3 separate regions of the Homo sapiens genome follow, and all the other regions are linked to region 3. Evidence: fine-mapped QTL for protein levels in blood plasma. A gene starts in region 3. Each other region holds a variant in brackets. All regions are shown on one strand. Distances are between the middles of the regions.

What was found. A credible set is the group of variants that fine-mapping cannot tell apart. PIP is the chance, under the fine-mapping model, that this variant and not a neighbour inherited with it causes the effect. Protein levels are from antibody-based Olink assays in UK Biobank. Linkage for the fine-mapping came from a reference panel and not from the study's own genotypes, which makes the PIPs less certain.
Region 1: its variant is the best candidate, but not a certain one, in a credible set for the plasma level of the REG1A protein (UK Biobank, PIP 0.60).
Region 2: its variant is the best candidate, but not a certain one, in a credible set for the plasma level of the REG1A protein (UK Biobank, PIP 0.51).

The regions. Positions count from the first base shown.
Region 1 is chr2:79,132,964-79,135,730 of GRCh38, reverse strand. It overlaps the pseudogene REG1CP. Among named protein-coding and RNA genes, the nearest start is that of REG1A, 14 kb to the right of the region's middle. The variant C/G (reference allele first, on the strand shown) is at 1,571.
Region 2 is chr2:79,103,187-79,105,953 of GRCh38, reverse strand. No RefSeq gene overlaps it. Among named protein-coding and RNA genes, the nearest start is that of REG1A, 16 kb to the left of the region's middle. The variant A/CTTGA (reference allele first, on the strand shown) is at 1,258.
Region 3 is chr2:79,119,097-79,121,863 of GRCh38, reverse strand. It overlaps REG1A (regenerating family member 1 alpha), which reads right to left and starts at 1,376. Exons shown (of 6, transcript NM_002909.5): 1 at 1,350-1,376; 2 at 939-1,048; 3 at 184-302. The coding sequence starts at 1,002.

The sequences.
Region 1 (2,767 bases), 14 kb before region 3:
AGAAGTTCTCCTTTGTTTGCAAGTTCAAATACTGGAGGCAATTGTAAAATGGACGTCTAGAATTGGTCTACCAGTTACTATGGAGTAAAAGAATTAAACTGGACCATCTCTCTCCATATCAATCTGGACCATCTCTCCTCTGCTAAATTTGCATGACTGATCTTTAGTATCTTTACCTACCTCAATTTCTGGAGCCCTAAACAATAAAAATAAACATGTTTCCCCCATAGTGCTGTCTTCTGTGTCTGCTATTTCCCCACCTAATGCCTGGGTAGTTGGGATGGCAGTGATTGTAGCACTCTAGAAGTTGCTTCGGCCCATTCACTTTTAAAAACTTTGTCCACATATCATGCATGTTGGACTCAAGGGTTTATGAACATATGGTGGCCTTGCTTATGACAATGTTAAGAAGATAAGGATTTCACTCACCACCCACATATTTCCATGGACCCAGTGTCAGAGAAATTATTACTGTTGATTTACAAGTGACTGGAGTGTTTGGTACTCTAAAGAGGTTCACATACCTGTGACCTGAGGAAGGCACATCTGTGCTTTGTTATACAAGTTGAAGCTATGACTGAAGTGATAATTTGAGAATTGTCAGGTCTACAGTGTTGAATGCATTGGTGTTGGAATGACTAGAGGCTTGGTGGCCAGCAATGTTGGTTAAATGGCACTCCTGGAATGAACGGCTAAATGAATAATAAATTAGATTAATAAAATACTCAGGCATAGTTATTTAATAATCCTATCTTCATATACAGTCAAATTCTGAAGTACTGATGTTAGGACTTTAATGAATTAATTTTGTGGGAACACCATTCAGCCCATAACACCAACAGCATCAATAATACTATTACCTGGGATTTAATAAAACAATGCAATCAAAAGGCACATATTGTTAGTCTGAATTAAAACAACAACAAAATCTATTTATGAGCTATGAATAAATTGACTTAGATTCACAGACACTGTGGAGATGAAAGTGACTCCATCTTGGGTGCTAATCTGCCATGTTGACTTTTGATTAGCCCCAGTCGTGGGAATGCTTCCTGATTCCTACATTATTTACTGTCCTTAGGGTAAGAACATATACTTACTAGAAATCTTGCCTTTAGAAAAAAACAATCTTGAGGTCTTTGCACAAATGATAGGCTATAGTGAACATAGCATTCTTGTCTGTTTGGAAGGGTTGCCTCTAATTGTCTGTATAGAGCACGTGCACTCTTTCCCTGCGGTACATAAGCCCTGGGGCCAGGGAGTAACAGTGTGGAGATCTCCCTGTCGGTGGCCGCCAAGACCACACTTCTGTCTGTATGTTCCCCAGCAAATCACCCTTTACTGACAAACTGGACTCTTCTGCCTCAGTCTTTAGTTTCTTGGCTCCTTTCGTGTTTGGTGGTTGCTTTGCATATATGGTCATTTATGAAACAACTGGGGAGTCAGTCAATAGGGGTCCAGGAACCAAAGTTTGGGCAAAAGGCAGGAAACATACGTGGAGGAAATCCTGGCAGGCTCCCCTCATCTATGTGGGGTGGTGTTGGCTACTTGCTAGATGCCTGTGGACCAT[C/G]ATGTGAGTACAGAGATGCCCTGAAAATGCTGGAGGGTCTAGAATGCTTGTTAGTAGAACATCTTACAGCTCACTGGGGTAAGGAAGTTCACCAGGTGGCTGAGACAGAGGGTTGGCCACTGTTACGGATTGTGGGAATGGCCACAGAAGTGTAGTTAGCAGCTAAGATGAAGGTACTAAGACTAGAGGAAGAATTACCATTAGAAAAGGATATGTGGACCTCCACGTCCATGTTTGCATCTAGTCTGGCAGATAAGCTCAAAACTCAGGATACTCACCTGGAACCCCTAGCCTGCTGCTTTATATGGTTAGATGGGAGAGAGCTGTGTTGGCCAAAAGTGCAAGCTGTTCTTCCTAAATTGGACTGGAACGCTAAGACTTGTTGTCCTTAGGAACCAAATAGTGAGTGAGATGAAGACATACCTCAGGAGGAGGAGGATAATTATCCTTCCCTTTTGAGAGCAAGACCTCTCATGCAATGGAAAACAAAAGCCCAACGCCTGCAGCCAGCTGGTAATGGACAACCTTTTCAGGAAAACTTCAATGTCCAAAATTACACCTTGGCAGAATTATTGAACATAGCAAAAACTTTCAAAGAGCAGCCAATAGAAAGCTGAGCCACATGGATGATGCAGCGAAGAAAACCTAGCGTGAATGGCATTTCCTTAGCAGAAAGTGAAGCTGATACAATGAGTACTGTAACCACCCAATCTGCTTTGAGACAGCATTGCATAGTGCTGGAACTGCTGAGAGCAAGCACAGTCTTATAGACCAGATTATCCTGGCTGTGACAGAGGCTTGGCCAAATGAAGGGGACTTTCCGGGTCAAACTCTGGTAAGGTGAACTCTGGAGGAAACAAGGACCAATTTAAAGGAGTTGGTCATGCTCAGGCCATCTATGCCCAGCAATTTGCAGGACCAAATAAGGCCGTGTTTACCATAGGCAAAAATATATATATATATATAATAATAATAAGTTGTTGCAAGCTGCCCCGTCCCCACCACCCCTGGAATTGCTATGGTTCTTTCCTATGCCTCTTAAGCCCTCTTCTGGGACAAGATATATATTACATGAGGAAGCTGTAGCTAATCTTGGAAAAAATGAAAAGGAAAGAGATAAGGTCTGTCTGTTTGCTAAAAAAAAAAAAAAAAAAAAGGTGGGGGAGGGGGTGGAGAAGAAGAAGCCAAGTCTGCCAG
Region 2 (2,767 bases), 16 kb after region 3:
AAAACCAAACACCACATATTCTCACTCATAGGTGGGAACTGAACAATGAGATCACATGGACACAGGAAGGGGAACATCACACTCTGGGGCCTGTTGTGGGGTGGGGGGAGTGGGGAGGGATAGCATTGGGAGATATACCTAATGCTAGATGACGAGTTAGTGGGTGCAGCGCACCAGCATGGCACATGTATACATATGTAACTAACCTGCACATTGTGCACATGTACCCTAAAACTTAAAGTATAATTAAAAAAAAAAAAAAAAAAGGATCTCACTTGTGGCTACATCCACCATTCCAGAAGGTGCAGGATGTAAATCTTGGCAGTGCCCACTGGTTGCTAATTTTGTAGCCTTGCCTATTATAGATTTCAAAAGATGCCTCAGAGAGACTCGGGGCTCAAATAATTGACACAAGGACAGGGTCACCACAGAGTTTGTCCACTAGGGCAATTACTAGTAGAACTTTGGGGAGTGGGTTTTCTTCAAAACCCTAACTGTAGATCCAGCAGTGTGAGATGCCACCTGTAGAGGGCTGCATAAAAGAGACTCTAACCTCTGATAGCTACTTCCTGGGATGCATCCAGCAAAATCATGGGGGCCCAACCCTCACCCCAATATGTAGAGAAGGTTTGACTTGGAGCCAAAGACGATTATTCTCAAACCTCAAGATTTAATGTTATTTGCTTTGGTGGGAATTGGGCTTATTACAGACTTATTACAGACTTATTATTTATTTTTATTTTCCATTTCTCTCTTTTGGAATGAGGCTGTCCATCCTGTGCCTGTCCCATCACTATATTGTGGAAGTACATAACTTACTTGATTTCACAGCTGGAGAAACATGTGCCTCAGAATGAATCATACTTGACTTTCACACGTATCTGATTTTGATTATATTTAGATGATAATCTGGACCTTAGACTTTTAAGAGGATACTATAATGAGCTAAGACTTTTGGGGCTTTTGGGATGAAATGAAACATTTTGTACCTGAGAAATACATGATTTTTAGGCAGCTAGAATGCTGCAGTTTGAATGTTTGTCTTCTCCAAAGTTCATGTTGAAATTTAATTGCCATTGGAACAATGTTAAGAGGTGGGACTTTTATGTGGTGACCAGGCCATGAGGATTCTAAAGAACAATTCCTCCTTTCAGGAGCACACACACGCGTGCACACACACACACACACACACACACGGGTTTGTGGTGCTAGTGTGTGTGTAAAAGACAAATTAAATTGCAGGTTAAGAATTGGGTG[A/CTTGA]TGTCTTACATTTATTCACTTTTTAAGCTCTTCTTGTGGAGCCTCTGTCCTTGACCATAATCAATGGGTGGTTATGTGTTGAAATCATTCAGAATCCAGATAGCTGGATGAGTTGCATGTGGAAATAAGTAGAGGAAAATCAGTATTTTGGGAACTCAGGGAATGGCCCTGGAGCTAAACTGCATGTCTGAATCTAGTGCCAACACATAGTAGCTGTTTGGTTTTTTAAAATTTTATTTTCGGTTCAGGGGTACATGTGCACGTTTGTTATACAGGCAAATTGTGTGTTGCAGGAGTTTGATGTATGGATTGTTTCATCACCCAGGTAATATGCATAGTATCTGATAGGTAGATTTTCAATCCTTACTTTCCTTCCACCTTCTATCTTCAAGTAGGCCCTGTGTCTGTTGTTCCTTTCTTTGTGTCCATATGTACTTGATGTTTGGCTCACACTTTTAAGTGAGATCATGCAATATTTGGTTTTCTATTCCTGTGTTAGCAGCTGTTTTAATCTTGCAGGAGTTACCTAGCCTTTCTCTTGCCTTCATTTTTTTTATGTGTCAAATATGGTTCGTAGCAGCACCTACATTATTAGGTTTTCATGGGGATTAAATGGTTTCTAATTAGGCAAGCATTTAGAATTGTGCCTGGCATAGACAGCATGTGACAAAAATTAATGTTTAAAAATCAGAGGTTTCTTGTGAAGCAGAATAGGCTAACTTATAAGTAGGTTTCCTTACACCTGCAGAACACAGCAGACCATGGAATGTCCTTGCTGCATTTGTTATTTGTTCAGCTCCTTTCTTTTCCAGTCTAAAGTTTGCAGACAGGCTATTATTTACATGCCTGCCAAGGATTTAAACAAGTGGGAGATTATCTCTCTCTCATATGTCTAAAATCTCAATTCCAAAGGTGGAAAGCAGAGAATACCTCTTGGAAAATGGCAAACAGCACCTAGAATCAGCCATAGCCTTGGAATTTTCTTGGCGTTATTGGAGGCTTATCAGAAAGTTTCCCCACTTAAGGACATATTAACACTAGATTTCCAGGAGACTGCTTTCCATATACAAGAAGACTGCTGGAGGGAATATGATGGGAAAGACCTGAAATGAGCTTCTTGGAATCTTGTAAAACTATGTCACAGGAAGGGCCTTGTTTTCTGGAGGACAATGAGATAAACCTTGAACAGATAGGAAATACAGTTTATATGCAAAAGGCATCACTTTGGAACAAAGTAGCTGCCAGGTAAAGGTATCAGTTTTATTAGCTTGCACGCGGAATTTGGCCAGTCACATGTGCAAGCAATAAAGTTAATAACATCTCAATGTGTTTCCAGATACTGGTAGCAATAAAGATTTTTATGGGAATACTGTGTCAATTGTTGATACAGTATTGAACTGAATCTCTCTCTGTTTTATATCATGCCAGTTACAGTGTATTTCATTATGTATTTTAAAGTATTAGATCTTTTATATCTGGAATGTTTTTGCTTGCTTTAAGTCTTCTTGAA
Region 3 (2,767 bases):
CACCAGGTTCTTTGTGCTGGGAATGTGCTGAATAATGGGATAAAGTAGATTGGAAAGTTTGGGGCTGATGATAGTATAGCAAGGGGTTCAGTCTCATCTCATTGCAGCCACTGAACACACTGGAGAGTGGCAGCTTCCCCTCCCTTCATGAGTCTCCCTTCCCACACTGCTCTCCTCACTCACATCTGCATCAACCCAGGTCTCACGGTCTTCATTAAAGTAGTAGCAGTAGGAGCGATAGGCATTGGTGCCTTCTGGGCAGCTGATCCGGGCCTGGGGCAACTCTGTCTGGGCCTCTTGGCCTGAAAAAGAAGAGACAATTAAAGGAGGCTCTCAGGGTAAGGAAAAGGCTTGAAGGTGAGGTAAGAGCTTCTGAGGTTCCTTTATAGAAACAGAAGAATCCAGTCTATTATGGGATGACTGCTCACTATTGCTCCTGCATCCTACATCTTCTGTCTTTGGTTTCTTTGATCAGGGGAAAAAAAACAGAATGAATAGGCCAAAGAAACAAGTCTCCAGTTTCCCTTTTATGTCTGGAGCTCAGGCTCTTCTACCTTGAAGGACTCAGCCTTCTACTTTCTCAAGCCTGACTTGGTTTCCCTGAACACAAGGCTCTCTTCAGTTCTCCACCCCATTAGTGACTGTCTACACACAGACATCCCCAAATCCACCATCACGTATAAATTTAATCAGATAAACTCATGCCAACTGCAGCAGTTGCTTATAAGGGGTCATTTTAAATTCTAGCTCCAACTCCTTAATGAGGTGTGGATGTATATAAATGTGAAGAGATCAGCAATAAAGATCACTAAACACCACAAAACAACCCTTAACAGTGACTCTGCTTTTTTTTTTTTTTTCAAGTAGACCCGTATGCTTGGGGATAGAGTGAAGTCTTCAGGGCTAGAAAGAGTTGGTTGGTGGAAAAGAGATCTTACCTTGGCTCTGAGACAGAAACATCAGGCAGGAGATCAGCATGAAGTATGAGCTGGTCTGAGCCATGCTGAGCTGCAATGAATCTCTTGCTTAAGAGGCAAATCAACAATCTCTATAGGAGAACACAGAGAAGGGGGTTCTGAGAGATGGAGAGCAAAGCACCTATTACCTTCCTTAAAACCTCCTCTCAGAATTTCTGAGACCAGGAAGGTCCTCTGAGACACCCACACCTTCAAATGTTTCTCTTGAGAGTGGGGATTATACAGACTCAGTAACTGAAAAACAACTTTGGATCCCACTGAGGCTTCATTACAGCTAAAACCTCTTGGACAGAAACTCATGCTGTATCTTCCCGAAGATTTTAGATCTACAGTGCATGTTAGAGACGCCCTTCTCCTGTAATGCCCACTTACCTGTTGGCTGAGTCTGAGTTGGCTTCTCAGGCCAGGTAGCTGTAGGAGCTTTATATCAGGATCTGAGATAAGAACCACGTCATTTAAGCAAAAGGGGTGGGGGCAAGCGGTGAGTTTTGGGAGCATTGACAGTAAGAGATTCTGGCACCAGTACGAGCCTTTTCCCGGCACACACTGGGAGTGGTCACAACTCAGGTCCCCTTCTGGCAAAAAATTTGGCAAGCTGTCTAAGTCCAAGGTGGACTTTGCTCTTGCTCAGCAGAAAACAACTGAGGGCTCCCATGTGCCCTAATAACCCAGAGAGGAGCAGAGAACAGTAGACTTCCTTGTATTCCCTGTAAATTTAGAGGCTCCTCTTTGGTGTCAGGCATGGGTAGGAGATGGGGAAGAATTAACTGATTCCAAATAATTTAGAACAATGTGCTTGTGGCAATAAGTGGTTCCTCCATGTCTTTTTAGGCTCACAAACCTCTCAAGACCTACCTCAAGGGGTAGGTTAAATTTATATTTCTAAACATTTAACATGTCTAACAAGGTTTGAGCTAACAAAATACACATATTCTCAATGTGAGAATTGTAGAGAGCTGATGCCTAAGGAAGCTTAAAGGAGCTAAATATGAAGTCAGGCTTCATTGAAATTGTCCATTTGAAGTCAACTGTTTGTTAGTATGAAGTCAAAGATTGTGTGGTGAAATTGAGTATTTACCAGAATCATCATAGAATAGTCATTTATAATTCAGGGAATAAAAGCCAATCAGAATGCAAAATTAGGAAGAAAAAACTAACCTGAATATTCACAGAAAGAGAGATAAGTATATGAATTGGGACAAATGGATTAACAAAATATAATAAAATACTAAACAGAATTTAAATCGAATAAAGTAGATATCTATATTTCAACTTGGACTAGTATCAAAGCCATAACATTGAATACAAAAATTCAGTTGCAAGAAGTTATAAGCTATTTGATAAACTTTATATATGGTTTTAAAAGACAGATTAATACTAAATTTTATTTATTAATCAATTCTTATACAGTTTAAAAAATAAAAATCTGAAATGTAAGAATATATATTACAATTTGTCATAGTATTTGCCTAACAATTTTAAGGTTTTTTTTTCTTTATATAAAAACTGATGATGGGCCTGGTGTGGTGGCTCAAGCCTGTCATCCCAGCACTTTGGGAGACTGAGATGAGAGGATCACTTGAGCCCAGGAATTCGAGACCAGCCTGGGCAACATAGCGAGACCCCATCTCTACAAAAAAAGTATATATATATATATATATATATATATATATATATATATATATATATATATATATATCCAGATATGGTGGCACATGCCTGTAGTCTCAGCTACTTAAGAGGCTAAGGTGGGGGATTGTTTGAGCTTGGGAAGTAGAGGTTGCAGTGAG